2 separate regions of the Homo sapiens genome follow, and region 1 is linked to region 2. A link means that fine-mapping ties the variant in region 2 to the expression of a gene that starts in the linked region. Tissue or cell type: whole blood. Region 2 holds a variant in brackets; the other region holds the start of a gene. All regions are shown on one strand. Distances are from middle to middle.

The links. PIP is the estimated chance that this variant, and not a neighbour inherited with it, causes the effect.
Region 1: OBSL1 starts here. The variant in region 2 is fine-mapped to the expression of OBSL1 in whole blood (TOPMed, PIP above 0.99).

The regions. Positions count from the first base shown.
Region 1 is chr2:219,567,169-219,575,261 of GRCh38, forward strand. OBSL1 (obscurin like cytoskeletal adaptor 1) reads right to left here and starts at 4,371. Exons shown (of 21, transcript NM_015311.3): 1 at 3,053-4,371; 2 at 887-1,156; 3 at 550-801; 4 at 105-407. The coding sequence starts at 4,064. It overlaps INHA (inhibin subunit alpha), which reads left to right and starts at 5,142. Exons shown (of 2, transcript NM_002191.4): 1 at 5,142-5,474; 2 at 7,526-8,093. The coding sequence starts at 5,207. RefSeq lists enhancers at 1-354, 2,477-3,314, 3,315-4,152, 4,839-5,133.
Region 2 is chr2:219,604,423-219,612,521 of GRCh38, forward strand. It overlaps STK11IP (serine/threonine kinase 11 interacting protein), which reads left to right. Exons shown (of 25, transcript NM_052902.4): 8 at 1,186-1,312; 9 at 1,534-1,637; 10 at 1,773-1,868; 11 at 2,054-2,095; 12 at 2,290-2,436; 13 at 2,631-2,715; 14 at 3,625-4,008; 15 at 4,161-4,366; 16 at 4,675-4,791; 17 at 4,941-5,118; 18 at 7,182-7,412; 19 at 7,533-7,636. Among named protein-coding and RNA genes, the nearest start is that of STK11IP, 11 kb to the left of the region's middle. RefSeq lists enhancers at 640-1,839, 3,845-4,344. The variant C/T (reference allele first, on the strand shown) is at 3,534.

The DNA.
Region 1 (8,093 bases), 37 kb before region 2:
GGCAGAGGGCAGAGGCTGGCGGATGGCAAGCCTGTGAGAGGACCAGCACTGAGGGCTGGGGAAGGGAGGAGAAGTGATGGGTGGGTCTGGCAGGACCAACTCACCAAGGTGAGCAGAACCGTGGAACACCACGTGGGGACTACGGCCATGTCCGCTGACTGTGCAGATGCGGAAGCGGTAGTCACCCTCGGAGGGCACACAGTCGCCCGGCACCTCCACGGCTCCGGCTTTCTCGATGCTGAAGCACTGAATCCAGTCTTCAGAGCCCACTTCCTGCCGCTCCAGCCGGTAGATGAATGGGGTCTCGGGAGCTGGCTCGGGAGGCTTCCAGGTCAACAGGACCGTGTTCTTGTGGCCCTTGAACATCTCTGCCAATATGGGGGGTCCTGGGGGACTGTGCTTGACACCTGAGACCAAGGCAGGGATGTGTTCCGGCCTTGCTTGGGCCTCCACAGCCCTTCCACCTTAAATCTACTTCACCAACCCAGCTCCGGCATCTGGCCAACCTCCTGCCCTGCCTCGCCTGTCCAGAGGCCTTCCTGCCCTCACATTTTACTCTGAGAAGCGTAGTGGTACGGGAGTTGCCCAGGCTAAAGGTGACCTCGCCAGCATCCTCTCGGGTGACCCCTGGAAGGACCAGGGCATGCATGTGGCCTGAGCTGCTCTGGCAGATGACCGGCAGCTCCTCCCCATCACGGCTCCAGCGTCCCTCGACCCCGGCCTCTAGAGTTTCCACTAGCAGCACAGCATTCTCTCCTTCCAGGACGTCGAGCTTCCGGGGCAGGCGCTTCAGGATGGGCCCTGAGATGCGGACAGGAATCCATCAACCTGGAATCTGAGCACCTGCCTGCCTCCGCCTCAGCCTCTTCCCCACGGGCCAGCTGACCTTTGACTGTGACGTTGGCCACGGTGCGCACCCGGCCCCGCATCTCGCACAGGTAGATACCATCATCGTCTGCCTTCAGCCTGTGGATGATGAGGCGCCGGACAGTGCCCTCTTCGATCTGCTCGTACTTGCGGCAGGGCAGCAGCCGCTGGTCCTCACGGAACCAGGCCGTGGGGATGCGGGAGTTGGGTACTTTACATTCCAGCACGGCAATCCCGTGCTCACGGCCCTCCACGTCCTGCAGGGGCCGTGTGAACCGGAGGCGGGGCTCTGTGGAGAGGGGAGAGAGAGACAAGAGAGGGCTCTGGAGAAGGCCCAGACTAGGAGTAGGATACCTAGAAGCGCATTAGCTCATGCTGTGTGCTCTTCATGCAGAGCCAGCGGGCACTGTGGAATCACAGAAAACTACCAGAAGGGAAGTGGTGGTTCCTAAGATGACCTGAGTTCTCATCCAGCCCTGACACTAGCCACATCACCTTAAGCAAGTCCATTTCAATGCTTCTGGGCCTCAGTCTCCTTACTTGTAAAATGGGGAAAGGGAGAGAAGGGGTTGGACCAGATTGATGATTTCCAAACTGTTCCCTGGGGTCCTCCAGGCCCTAGATTGGTGATTTCCAAACTGTTCCCTGGCTCCCCCCGCCCCAGTCATTTCACATATTCTGCAAGGGTCTGAGTAGAATTTAAAATATTTTAACTCTTTTTTTTTTTGAGATGGAGTCTCGCTCTGTTGCCCAGGCTGGAGTGCAGTCGCGCAATCTCGGCTCACTGCAACCTCCACCTCCTGGGTTCAAGCAATTCTGGTGCCTCAGCCTCTCAAGTAGAGCTGGGATTACAGGCAGGCGCCACCACGCCTGGCTAATGATTTTGTATTTTTAGTAGAGATGGGGTTTTGCCATGTTGGCCAGGCTGTTCTCGAACTCCTGACCTCAAATGATCCGCCCACCTTAGTCTCCCAAAGTGCTGGGATTACAGGGTGAGCCACTGTGCCTAGCTATTTTAACCCTTTTCAAAAGTGTATTTCAAAAAAAAAAAAAGAAAAGAAAAGAAAACAGGATGTTGGAAATCAGAGGATTAACTAGGGCTGCTGGAGAAGCAAGTTTTTGTGTGCGTGTGTGTATGCAACTCGGGGAAGCTCCTCTAGCCTTCCCTCCGGGCTTTTCTTTCCTGATGGAGGTCCAGATCAGCACCAACCTGATGAATCTGTGAGCATTGAACTGTAACAGTGAGGCCACCACCGCAGCCTGGGGGCAACATGCTTGACTGCATGCTAGGAAGGACTCAGGAGAATTTACCAACTTTTTTTCCTCTAAGAGAAAAAACTGGACAATAACTAGTGAAGGTGTACTCTTTTGCGTTGTGATGAAATCCTATTATGGGGAGCGTTACCTTCTGGTGAGTTTGGGGTGTGCTTTTTTTTCCTTTGGAATTTTCTGTTTATGAGAATGTAACCATTTATTGGATATTGTTGGTGATTCAACTTTGAAATATAAACCTTCTCTCCTTCACCTTCCTCTTCTTGCAAACGTGGGGAGCAGTTTAATCAAAGAATAGTAAAAACACGCAGGACATTTGTCCTCCCTCAAGTCTAGCTTTCCACTGAATCACTTGTTTCTCAAGGTGACAGATGCAGCCAGGCCGTCCCCACAGGGTTCAGAGCCTGGTCTCATGAATGCAGCCTTTAATTCAAATTCCTGTATTCAATAAAATAGCCTCCTTATTCTCACTGATGGTTTAGAAGTACCTGTTATATACGTAGACTCAGCAATTTACGCCCATAAACTACTCCTTTATCTGTCTCATATATTGGGGCTCTGGTTGTGAATTCAGTGGGGGAAGGAGGAGTAAAATAACAAAGACGTTGAAAACCACTAGGGAAGAAGAGTTCTAGGGCCCTCCGGATTTGTACATCAATCACTCCTTAGTGGTGTTCCACCATCTGCCTCGGAATCATTTAAGGAGTTTGCTAAGAAGTTCCTGAGTACCCTGGAGACCTACTAAATCCGAATCCCTGGGGAGTGAGAGGCGGGCGGGTTTGGTATTTTAATATTCCCGCGGACCACCTCTCCTCCAGTCTTGGGGGCAGCGCTGGGCACCGAGGAGGGCTGGAGTTCGGAGGGCCTCGGAGGACACTCGAGGCCCCTCCCTAGGTCCCGGGCTCCGCCGTACCTTTCACGTGCAGCTGCACGGCACTGAGCGTCTGGCCCGCCGAGTTGCGCGCGGCGCAGACGTAGAGCCCACGATCCTTGGCCTGGCAGTAAAGCACCTTGAGCACGAAGCCGCCGTCGCGGTCGCGGTACATGAGGCGGCGGCGGTCCGGGAGCAGCGGGCGGCCCTCCCAGTGCCATTCGATCTCGGGCTCGGGCTTGCCCATCACGTAGCAGCGGAACTTGGCGTGCTTGCCCTCGTTCACCCAGAAGGTCTTAGGCGCGCACTTGAGCGGCTCCACCACCGGCGCGGGGGCCTCGTCGGGGTCCGCGGGCGGGCTCTCGGGGGGCTGGTGCACCTGGAGCAGCGCCCCCGCCTGCGCGTGGCCGTGCGCGTTGCGGGCGTGGCACACGTAGACGCCGGAATCCGGCAGCCGAGCCGCCAGGATGCGCAGTGCCAGGCTCGCGCCGGGGCCGTCCTCGGCGCGGCCCGGCTGGAGCGCGAAGTGGCTGCTGTCCCACACTTCGTCCAGGGCCATCCCGTCCTTCTCCCAGTACAGTGTGGGCTCGGGGAGGCCCCCCGCCCGGCACGTCAGCACCACCTCCGCCCCCCGCAGCACCCACTGGGATCGAGGCCCCGTGAGGAAGACCGGGGCGCCCTCCCCGGACCCCGGCGATGGCAGCGGGCGCTCGGCGGGCTGCAGCTCGGGGTCGGAGGCCGGCGGCTCCAGCACGGTGACGGCGGCCGCCGCGTAGGCCTCGCCGGCCGCGTTGCGGGCGCGGCACACGTAGACCCCCGCGTCGGTGGGCAGTGCGGCGGTCAGCAGCAGGCCGTGCTCCGCGCCGTCCGCCGGGAAGCTCAGGCGTTCCGAGGCCGCCAGCTGCTGCCCGCCCTTCTCCCACACCACTACAGGCGGCGGCTCCCCCAGGACCACGCACTTGAGCTCGGCCTCGGCGCCACTTACCACCCGCACAGGCCGCGGGAAGCGCAGGAAGCACGGGGGGCTCCCCTGATCCCCCGAGCTCGCCTTCATCGCGGCGGCCGACCGCCTGCAGCGGCGAACGGTGGGGGGGCAGGGGGGGGTGCGGAGGGCGAGCCGAGGCCCGGGGCGGCGGGGTCGGGGCGCGGCTGGGGACTGGGCGCGGGGACCCGCGGAGCTCTCCCGGGCCTCCCGCTCCCGGCTCGCCTCCTTACCCTCGGCCCCGAGCTGCAGCTCTGCGGCGGCGGCGGCGGCGATTCCCGGGCCCGAAGCCTGGCGCTCAGGGGGCAGTCCTTCCTGTTTGCCTCTCCAGCGAGTGGCCCCGCAGCCTCCCCTGCCCGCTGCCTGGCTTCCTGCTCTTAGGAGCCTCTCTTCCCAGCCCCCTCCCACAGCTTGGGCCTCTTCCCCCTCCTCCCTCCCACCTCCAGCCGCCAGGTCCCCAGCCGCCCGCCAGGCTTGGGCCTGAGTGGCAGAGGCGCCTGCAGCTGCCAATCCCAAAAATATTCTCTGATGACACAGCTGGAGGACAAGAGCCCAGACTGGCTCCACTGGTCTAAGTATAGAGCAGGCAGGACCACCTGCCCCCGGCCCTAGCCCCGGTTCTAGCCCCGGTTCCAGCCCTGCCCCCAAGGGCTGGCCGGCCAGCAGCTGCTTATTGAAAGGGGCCCCAGAAGGTCTGAGGGGTGATGCACTTTGTCTCCCTGACAAATAACACTTTCTGGGGCTGGCCGGCTACAGCTCCCAGGCTCCTGTCCCACCTGATGTCACCTCTGGATGTGTCTGTGTGTGTGTGTGTGAGAGAGTGTGTGTGTGTGAGAATTTGTGTGTGTGTGAGTGTGTGTGTGAGTGTGTGTGTGAGTGTGTGTGTGTGTAGGGAGAAGGTGTTGTATGTTTGCATGTGTGAGTCAGGTCGCTTGAGGCGAAATCCTTCCCAGCCCCTCCCCCACATCCCTGGCGGGAGTGGGAGATAAGGCTCATGGCCACAGACATCTGCGTCAGAGATAGGAGGTCTCAATGCCACGGGCAGGGGCAACTCGGACTGTGGGGCGTGGAAAGGACTGGGGAAGACTGGATGAGAAGGGTAGAAGAGGGTGGGTGTGGGATGGGGAGGGGAGAGTGGAAAGGCCCTGGGCAGACCCTGGCAGAAGGGGCACGGGGCAGGGTGTGAGTTCCCCACTAGCAGGGCCAGGTGAGCTATGGTGCTGCACCTACTGCTCTTCTTGCTGCTGACCCCACAGGGTGGGCACAGCTGCCAGGGGCTGGAGCTGGCCCGGGAACTTGTTCTGGCCAAGGTGAGGGCCCTGTTCTTGGATGCCTTGGGGCCCCCCGCGGTGACCAGGGAAGGTGGGGACCCTGGAGTCAGGCGGCTGCCCCGAAGACATGCCCTGGGGGGCTTCACACACAGGGGCTCTGAGCCCGAGGAAGAGGAGGATGTCTCCCAAGCCATCCTTTTCCCAGCCACAGGTAACGAGGGTGGGGGAACCGGCAGGATGACTTTGAGAAAAAGCAAGGCACAGCATGGGTTTGCAGGCCAGGCGGACCTGGGTTTGAATCCTAGTCCTGCTACTCAGTTGCTTTGCAGCAATAGGCCAGTTACTAAACTTCCTTATGCTTCTGTCTCCCCATCTGTAAAATGGGCTAATGCCCACCTCTCAGGATTAAGTGAGAGGCTGTACCTAGAGTGCATGGCAGGTGGGAGGCATTTGGGAAGTATGCGCTGGGAGACCGGGGGTCTCTAAAGATGGAGATATTTGGGCTTGAGCCCCTTCCTGCCACCTTTCCTCCTATCTCTGCCTCTGCTCGCTGCTCCAAACCCTGTTTCTTTACTCCCAGGTAGCTGACACTGAGAAGCTATCAGAGATACAGGCAAAAGATTAGTTGGGAAACTTTTCTGGAAAACTAGTCTATCTTCTCTTGAGTTCCTGTCTCAACATATATGTGCCCCCTTGTTCCACTGACTGAATGGATAAGCCCTCCTGTGGGTGGGCTTTCTTGTCATCTGGTCCACCTTTCTCTTAGAGAGGACCCCTGCCTCCCTCACTTCAGTCCGTTCGCAGCACAGTGGGGAGAAGGATGGCTTTGGGATCAGGCAAAATCCAAGCCTGGCCACTTAGTCGTTGAACGTCATTTCACCTCTCTAAGCCTCAGTTTCCTTATCTGCAAAATGGACCAATTGTGACTAGATAATGAGAGAAGCCATGTAACAGTATAGTTCCAATTGCCAGTCCATGAACGAGTGCTGCTCCAGGATGATTAGTATAGTCTATGAGTGTGTCAGTGTGAGGATGCTAACTACACATTCTTGAAAGGACTGCCCTCTGTTCTGAGTTACAGCCCTCCTCCTTCTCTTCCCCCTCTTCCTTGTTCTCCATTTTCTTCCCTTTCCCACTTGCCTTTCCCTCCTTCTTCTTTTTTTTTTTTTTTTGGTGTAAACCTGTCTTTTAAAAATGGAATTATTTTAAAGAATTTATCCTACAATATTCCTGACATGCCAAAGATATAAAGAGTAATATAGGCCGGGCGCGGTGGCTCACGTCTGTACTCCCAGCACTTTGGGAGGCCAAGGCAGGAGGATCACAAGGTCAAGAGATCGAGACTATCCTGGCTAACATGGTGAACCCCGTCTCTACTAAAAATACAAAAAATTAGCCAGGCATGGTGGCACCAGCTACTCGGGAAGCTGAGGCAGGAGAATTGCTTGAACGTGGGAGGCGGAGCGGAAGGCAGAGGTTGCAGTGAGCCGAGATGGCGCCACTGCACTCCAGCCTGGGCGACAGAGCTAGACTCCATCTCAAAAAAAAAAAAAAAATGGTAATATGGCTGGGTGTGATGGCTCACGCCTATAATCCCAGCACTTTGGAAGGTGAAGGCAGGCAGATTGCTTGAGCTCAGGAGTTTGAGATCAGCCTGGGCAACATAGCGAGACCCTGTCTCTACAAAACCCACAAAAGTTAGCTAGGTGTGGTAGCACACGCCTGTGGTCTCAGTTACTCAGGAGGCTGAGGTGGGAGGATTGCTTGAGCCCAGGAGGTAGACGCTGCAGTGAGCCGTGATCATGCCACTGCACTCCAGCCTGGGTGACACAGTAAGACTCTGTCTCAAAAAAAAAAAAAAAAAAGAATATAACAACCATCCATGTAGACACCATTCAGGATACTGTTTCACACTATCTGGTGAGTAAGCATTGAAGTCTAATACAAAGTCTTAGTGCTGGTGAAGTGGAGAGAGGGCCTCTTACACACTGCTGATGGGCATGTTAATTGGTAAAACCACTTCAGAGAGAAGTTGGCAATGTCTTCTATTTTTTTAAGTCCCTTCATGATGAAATTAAAAAATGGGAAGCCTACAGAAGCTCTCCCAAAACTCAGGAGAGTCCCCACGTCCCGGAGGGCGTGGAGCAGAGTGCAGCCCATCATTGGCTCATGACTGGTGGCCACATCCCTCCTGCTGAAGAGGAGGGGTGCCAGGTCCTGCCAGTCAGGGCTGCCCTCTCCCTTTTCTTCTGTCTCCTGCAGATGCCAGCTGTGAGGACAAGTCAGCTGCCAGAGGGCTGGCCCAGGAGGCTGAGGAGGGCCTCTTCAGATACATGTTCCGGCCATCCCAGCATACACGCAGCCGCCAGGTGACTTCAGCCCAGCTGTGGTTCCACACCGGGCTGGACAGGCAGGGCACAGCAGCCTCCAATAGCTCTGAGCCCCTGCTAGGCCTGCTGGCACTGTCACCGGGAGGACCCGTGGCTGTGCCCATGTCTTTGGGCCATGCTCCCCCTCACTGGGCCGTGCTGCACCTGGCCACCTCTGCTCTCTCTCTGCTGACCCACCCCGTCCTGGTGCTGCTGCTGCGCTGTCCCCTCTGTACCTGCTCAGCCCGGCCTGAGGCCACGCCCTTCCTGGTGGCCCACACTCGGACCAGACCACCCAGTGGAGGGGAGAGAGCCCGACGCTCAACTCCCCTGATGTCCTGGCCTTGGTCTCCCTCTGCTCTGCGCCTGCTGCAGAGGCCTCCGGAGGAACCGGCTGCCCATGCCAACTGCCACAGAGTAGCACTGAACATCTCCTTCCAGGAGCTGGGCTGGGAACGGTG
Region 2 (8,099 bases):
TCTTTCCCCTGAACAATATAAATCCTTTTCTTCCTTGATCACCTTTTGTTCACTAAAAACCAACTGAGCCATTTATTGGGACTTGGTAGTGGATGAATTTTGCTGGATGGTGAGAGTGACCAGGCATTTAATGGGGGACATTTCTATGGAAACAAAAAGGGAAACAAAGATGAATGGTTGGAGCAGACTATAAATCCATTTTCTGAGTCCAGAGGGCAGCCAGTTGAGATTTCTAGGTGTTGAGCTCTATGTTTCTTTAGATGGTGGAATGAGGATAGCAGTGGCAACCGATGGATTTCTTCGTTTGTAGTTTGAATGTTTGTGGTGATAGCATAGACAGTGTTGCAGTCACGGTTATTTCCCTGAACAGAGCCTGGAAGATACAGAAGTGTCAGTGGACTTTTTTCCTTTTTTTTTTTTTAATGAGACAGAGTTTCGCTCTTGTTGCCCAGGCTGGAGTGCAATGGCACGATCTTGGCTCACCGTAACCTCTGCCTCCCGGGTTCAAGCGATTCTCCTGCCTCAGCCTCCCAAGTAGCTGGGATTACAAGTGTGTGCCACCACGCCCAGCTAATTTTTGTATTTTTAGTAGAGACGGGGTTTCACAATGTTGGCCAGGTGAGTCTCGAACTCCTGGCCTCAAGTGATCCCCCCTCTTTGGCCTCCCAGAGTGCTGGGATTACAGGCATGAGCCACTGCACCTGGCCGGCTGGGCATTTTAAAAGAGGGCGGCGGGGAGTGGGCAGGGGAATGGTAGGGCCTTGAGCAGAGCTGGGGGAGTGGAAATCAGGTTGGTCCACATGAAACCCATCTGAGTTTGCTAACTAACTGGCACTTACCAAAATAAGGCCCTTACCCTTTCACAGAGACTGGGAGACGGGGCCCTATCTTCAGGAGTTGGCTGAAACAAATGGGAAATTCTTTTGGCAGCTTTGACTTTTCCCAGGCAGGAATTTAAGGGGCTTGGAGTTGCCATGCTCAGGGTGTGGCCTTGAACTGTTAGGAACAGTGCTGGTGTTGTTCAAGTCTTTTAACGTGGGAGTAGGGGTGGATGAAATCATTTGTGCTGAGTGTGTGCAGTTTTATATAGGCCAAGGTTGAGGCCTAGTCCAGAAGAGGTCTCAGAGGACCCTGGCTAGAGTTTGGTCAACGAGATAATCTTTTTCTCCCCTGTACCCCTGCCAGGATTTGTGTGAGCTCCACCATCTGGACATCTCCTATAATCGCCTGCATTTGGTGCCAAGAATGGGACCCTCAGGGGCTGCTCTGGGGGTCCTGATACTGCGAGGCAATGAGCTTCGGAGCCTGCATGGTGAGTGGGGGTGTGTGATGGGGCAAGCATGGAGGGGAAGGGGGAGAGTGAGGCTGGGGCTGGCCTGGGGACCATGTGCCTCTAGAGCCTTGAGAGGGCTTATGGGGAGTGCAGGGGTGCTCTGGCCGGTCTTTCTGCTGCAACCTCCCCCAGTGCATGCACCACACTCACTTGCGTGTACTCATCCACATGCTCTTCCTTCCTTCTTGCGTCCACCCCAGGCCTAGAGCAGCTGAGGAATCTGCGGCACCTGGATTTGGCATACAACCTGCTGGAAGGACACCGGGAGCTGTCACCACTGTGGCTGCTGGCTGAGCTCCGCAAGGTGAGATGGGAATGCATCAGGGGCCTGGGAACCACCCTTGCACGTACCCCCCCATGCTGGTTTGGTCAGTGCCTTCTTCACACAGGGAGGGCCAGGGCCCCAGGCCCTCCTCATTCTCCCCTTCCTGCCCCTCAGCTCTACCTGGAGGGGAACCCTCTTTGGTTCCACCCTGAGCACCGAGCAGCCACTGCCCAGTACTTGTCACCCCGGGCCAGGGATGCTGCTACTGGCGTGAGTGATCGTCCTGTGTCCACTCTTCTTCCCCTTTCCTGCCCAGTCCTCCCCCACCTTGCACCCTCTTGCCATCCCTGGGTGAGGGGCCAAGGACCTGGACCCTGCTTACTGTGTTCTTAATACCTGGAGCTCAGCAGGATGGGCCTACCACATACTCCCTCCCCCTTTTTGTCTTTGCTCAGTTCCTTCTCGATGGCAAGGTCTTGTCACTGACAGATTTTCAGGTCGGTGTGGTTGGGGGGCGAGGACTGTTGGGGGAAGACACGAAGGGAGGGCGCTGGGGAGAGAACAGAGGGCTGGCTGGTGACAGGGTCTTCCTGGTCAGTGGAAAGTAGGGTCCCGCCTTTTGGCTGGCTTGGGCAAGGCAGAGGTGCTCCCAGGCTCCAACCTCTCTCTCCTTCCTGTCGTCACGTGCCAGACTCACACATCCTTGGGGCTCAGCCCCATGGGCCCACCTTTGCCCTGGCCAGTGGGGAGTACTCCTGAAACCTCAGGTGGCCCTGACCTGAGTGACAGCCTCTCCTCAGGGGGTGTTGTGACCCAGCCCCTGCTTCATAAGGTTAAGGTAAGCAGCGTCCTCCGCTGCCTTGTGCCTGCGGTTGGGTGTCTCTCCGGGGACTCTGGGCTACAGTGGGCAGGGAATGGTAGGAACTGTGCTTGCACGTGGTCAAGGTTTCTTTGATAGGTTGGATGGCCAGCCGTGGATGGCAGGGCTGGAGGCTTGGCTTTCACAGAACTTCTTCCCTCCACCAACCTCAGAGCCGAGTCCGTGTGAGGCGGGCAAGCATCTCTGAACCCAGTGATACGGACCCGGAGCCCCGAACTCTGAACCCCTCTCCGGCTGGTAAGTCAGCTTCATCCCACTAACCTCTCTCGTCCCCAGCGAGCTCACTCTAATTTTTAAGTTACAGTGAAGATCTGCTGGAAGAAATGTTATTTTTTGTTGGGGTAGAGTATTATAGAGGGCTTCTTAGTCTTTTTTCTTTTCTTTTAGTTTAGGGAAAGGAGAAGACTGCTTCTGGGAGCATTTTGAAAACTTTTCGAGGAACATTAATTTTGTGGGGTGTCAAGAGATCATGTAGGCCAGGTGCAGTGGCTTACATCTGTAATCCCAGCACTTTGGGAGGCTGAGGTGGGAGGATTGCCTGAGCCCAGGAGTTTGAGACCAGCCTGGGCAACATAGAGAGATGTCCATTTCTACAAAAAAATTTTTAAATTAGCCTGACGTGGTGGTGTGCGCCTGTAGTCCTAGCTACTTGGGAGGCTGAGGCAGGAGGATCGCCAGAGCCTGATAGTTCAAGGTTGCAGTGAGCTATGATCATGCCACTGCACTCTAACCTGGTGACAGAGTAAGACCTTATCTCTTAAAAAAAAAAGTAAAAAACCCCAAAACAAAAGAAAGTGTATATGTATATATATAAAATAATAGGATTGTGGCCAGAGAAGTTTGAGAAATGTGAGGTTGAAGAGAAATAGGTGTGTCAGCTGCCGGCCGTCTCGGGCCCTTCAGGATGCTATCATGTATGCTGAGTCTCTGGAAGTAGCATAGGATGCGCAGCTTGGATTGCATGTGACCACAGGGTTCCATAGGACACGCTTTAGTACATGCCGCGGAGGGGACGCCTGTAGCCTCCCTTGCCCGTGTCCCCATACACAGCCCAT[C/T]GCCCCCTCATCGCTGAGGAGCACCGTTGAAGGATTTGGGGCCATCTGTGTGGGGCAGGCTTGCTCAGTTCTGGGTTCCCCTCCTGCCTAGGATGGTTCGTGCAGCAGCACCCGGAGCTGGAGCTCATGAGCAGCTTCCGGGAACGGTTCGGCCGCAACTGGCTGCAGTACAGGAGTCACCTGGAGCCCTCCGGAAACCCTCTGCCGGCCACCCCCACTACTTCTGCACCCAGTGCACCTCCAGCCAGCTCCCAGGGCCCCGACACTGCACCCAGACCTTCACCCCCGCAGGAGGAAGCCAGAGGCCCCCAGGAGTCACCACAGAAAATGTCAGAGGAGGTCAGGGCGGAGCCACAGGAGGAGGAAGAGGAGAAGGAGGGGAAGGAGGAGAAGGAGGAGGGGGAGATGGTGGAACAGGGAGAAGAGGAGGCAGGAGAGGAGGAAGAAGAGGAGCAGGACCAGAAGGAAGTGGAAGGTGAGCCCTTTGTGGGCTGGGGCGAGCTGAGGCCAGGGGCCCTTGGGATGTTTGTGAGTGGTGGGGCCTGGCGGGTGGAGGGCCAGTTCGGGGGAGGGCAGAGTGTGGGTACTTTCCCTCCCTGCAGGCCTTTTCTCTTGGTCTCTCCACAGCGGAACTCTGTCGCCCCTTGTTGGTGTGTCCCCTGGAGGGGCCTGAGGGCGTACGGGGCAGGGAATGCTTTCTCAGGGTCACTTCTGCCCACCTGTTTGAGGTGGAACTCCAAGCAGCTCGCACCTTGGAGCGACTGGAGCTCCAGAGTCTGGAGGCAGCTGAGATAGAGCCGGAGGCCCAGGCCCAGAGGTCGCCCAGGCCCACGGTGAGTGGGGCGTGGCAGGGTCTCTGGAGGAGCCAGTTATGGGAACATGGCTGTTGTGTGCCCTGCACTGGGCTGGGCATTTCTTTCAGTCTCTCCTTGGCACTAGGAGCCGAGGAGGGGAGCCTCAGAGGTTGCAAGCACTCGGGAAGCTGGGCTGAGGAGCAGGGATTCTGTGCTGGAGCTTGGACGTCAGTACAGGCCTTTGACAGGCTTCAGAGGTCCTGCCATCCTCCATGCTCTCAGCATCCCCTCATCCCTCTGATCACCGCCCCTGCTGTTTTTCACCCGGTCCCCCTCTTGCTGCGCAGGGCTCAGATCTGCTCCCTGGAGCCCCCATCCTCAGTCTGCGCTTCTCCTACATCTGCCCTGACCGGCAGTTGCGTCGCTATTTGGTGCTGGAGCCTGATGCCCACGCAGCTGTCCAGGTGATGGCGCCCAGAGTGGGGGCCCAGGAGGCTGTGGGGATTAAGAGAGCCAGAGGGAAGTGGCAGCAGGCCTGAGGGCCGGGGGCCTGTGGGAGGTGTCCGTCTGGGGTCCGCCTGCTCACAGCTGCCTCTGATCCACCCTCTGTCAGGAGCTGCTTGCCGTGTTGACCCCAGTCACCAATGTGGCTCGGGAACAGCTTGGGGAGGCCAGGGACCTCCTGCTGGGTAGATTCCAGTGTCTACGCTGTGGCCATGAGTTCAAGCCAGAGGAGCCCAGGATGGGATTAGACAGTGAGGAAGGCTGGAGGCCTCTGTTCCAAAAGACAGGTACAAGTCCTGCCCTTGACCTCTCTGCCCACACGCCTCCCCTGTTCCAGGGAAAGTGGCTCTGTGTAGGGGAGTGTGAAGGGGGAGCCCTAGGGAGAAGGGGCTAGAGTGGAGAGCAGTTGTTCTGCCTGGAGGAAAAAGAAAACCGTCTGCCTGCTGCATTTACAAAAAGGAAAACAGAAAAAAAGAAGAAACTATATCCTGTTTTTTTTTTTTTTTTAACTCTAAAAGTCAGGAAATGCAATCTCTGTAACTGTGCTTAAACATACTCATTATTTTTTCATAACTTGAAGGCTTGTTGTGTTGGGGATTTTTTGGCTGATATTTCAGACACTACATAAAACCTAATGAGCCCTCACTGCAGTATTGGATTGTGGTGCTGCCTCTGCCAGCAAGTGTAGCTGTTGAGTGAGATGCTTGGGGAGTTGGCTTGGTTTATCCTTCCCGGCTGACCTTGGAAGGTACATAATGTCCTGTGGCATTTCTTCATGCGCTAGTCCTTAAAACAAGAATTGTTTCCATTGTAGACCAGTCAGCACTATCTTTGAAGAAGACATTGAAGAAGAAATAAATATTCTTGATAACAGCTCTGTGGAAATGCCAGAATTTTATTAGACGGTTTTCTCTTCTTGGCGGCAGCTGGAGCAGGGGTTTAGATTTTATTCAGAAAATGGAGCCCTGCTCCATTCCCCACTGTGAACTGGCCTGGGCATGCAGCCTTAGTGACACAGCGCAAACAGAAACAGCCCCCAGCCCCTCCCGGACCCTGGCTGTACACCATGAGGTGCTGTGGTCTCTGGAGCCTCTTCCATGGTGGCGTTATTAATGAACATTACTGTGGGCTCTGTTCTCCTTTAATTTTTTTTTTTCTTTTTTTTTTGAGACGGAGTCTCGCTCTGTTGCCCAGGCTGGAGTGCAGTGGCACAACCTTGGCTCACTGCAAGCTCTGCCTTCCGGGTTCACGCCATTCTCCTGCCTCAGCCTCGCAAGTAGCTGGGACTACAGGCGCCCACCACCACACCCAGCTAATTTTTTGTATTTTTAGTAGAGATGGGGTTTCACCGTGTTAGCCAGGATGGTCTGTCTCCTGACCTCGGATCTGCCCACCTTGGCCTCCCAAAGTGCTGGGATTACAGGCGTGAGCCACCACGCCCGGCCAACCATTCTCCTTTCACTTGCACCTCAGTTACCTCCTCTGAACAAAGAAGGGAATGAACTCACCCCATGGTGCTGTTACGCTATTTAAATGTGACAGTAAGGCACCAAGCAGAGGGCCTGGCACAACACAAAGGTCTCCTGTAAATGGTAGCTGCTGCCGTTGTCCCCAGCTGTATGGTCCTGGGCAGCATGTGTAAATGATTTAATATTTTCTTTCTTCTTTGCAAAATGGGATAGGGAGAGTTTCTCTGGTGATGAAATGCGATCATAGTGGCATAGGAGGTAGCGCATGCCCATCACGGTGTAGCTGCTCAGAGTGCTGCCTCTCTCATTGCTGATCCATGTCCTGATTCCTTCCCAGCTTCCTGACACTAAGGATGAGTATAAGATAGATGCTATTGTCATCCCTGTTTTATAGACGAGGAACCAGGCTCACAGAGCTTAGATGACTTGCCCATGATTACAGAGCCATTAATTGATGGAGCCTGGAATTGGACCGAAATTTGGCAACAGAGTTCTCTGCCTTTCCAGACCTGTTGATTTTGGTCTTTCAGACGTTGCTAGGAGAGCCCTGAAGTACTTGATCAGCCCAAGTCTGTAAGAGGGCATAAGAGCAGGTCCTGGTTGTGTTTGGCCCAGTCTGAGAGGGCCTAGAGTTAGAAGGTAGAGTGCACTTTGAGGAGTTTGTGGGCCAGGGTTAGCTCATCCCTCCCTGGGGTGGGGAGTGATCAGTTGGCAGCTGTGCCGGGAGAGGGAGCTGGTGGCCTGGGGCGCGGTGGTTGTGTATGAAGCTGGAGGCTTGGGCTCAGGGGAGACCTGAGCATGGGGAAGGAGCATCGTGAGCATGGTGGGAGTTGTGGCACTGTGGGGGGGGCTCATGGGGACCGTGTCCATCCTCCCTCCAGAATCTCCTGCTGTGTGTCCTAACTGTGGTAGTGACCACGTGGTTCTCCTCGCTGTGTCTCGGGGAACCCCCAACAGGGAGCGGAAACAGGGAGAGCAGTCTCTGGCTCCTTCTCCGTCTGCCAGCCCTGTCTGCCACCCTCCTGGCCATGGTGACCACCTTGACAGGGCCAAGAACAGCCCACCTCAGGCACCGAGCACCCGTGACCATGGTAGTTGGAGCCTCAGTCCCCGTGAGTATAGGCAAAACAAGACATAGATGAGTTTGGGGAAGGGAAGGGGCACTGATGGGGAGGTGGAGATGGAGCCCAGGGGCTGCCATGGGCAGGCTGATGCCCCCTCATTGCCCTCAGCCCCTGAGCGCTGTGGCCTCCGCTCTGTGGACCACCGACTCCGGCTCTTCCTGGATGTTGAGGTGTTCAGCGATGCCCAGGAGGAGTTCCAGTGCTGCCTCAAGGTCTGTGCTCCCTGACACTGCCCATGCCCCCAGCTGTCCAGGGTGCCCACTCGTTTCCATCACAGCCAACTGAGTCAGATCAAGCACTCTAGAGACCTGATCTGGCTTCTGGTTTCAACCCCAGCAGCTTCTTGCTGTGTGGCCGTGGACACATTCCCTGGTATTTGAGTCCCAGTTGTTGCCTGTCTGCAATGGAGATAACGATGCCTCCCTTACACAGTGGCGTGCGTCAGGGCTCATGTTGAAGCTGCCCAGCCCAGCACCTGGCACTCATCAATGGGGCCTCCTAGCATTATTATAAACACATGATGTCGTTAGGCCTTTGTTGAGCACCTGTTGTGCTAGACATTGAGGATCTACAGATCAATCTTGCCCTTGATCTTACAGTCTGGTGTGAGAAGCTGACAATGATTATGCAATATGCAAATGCTGTAATCGGGCTAAGGCCCTTGAAGGGGTGTCT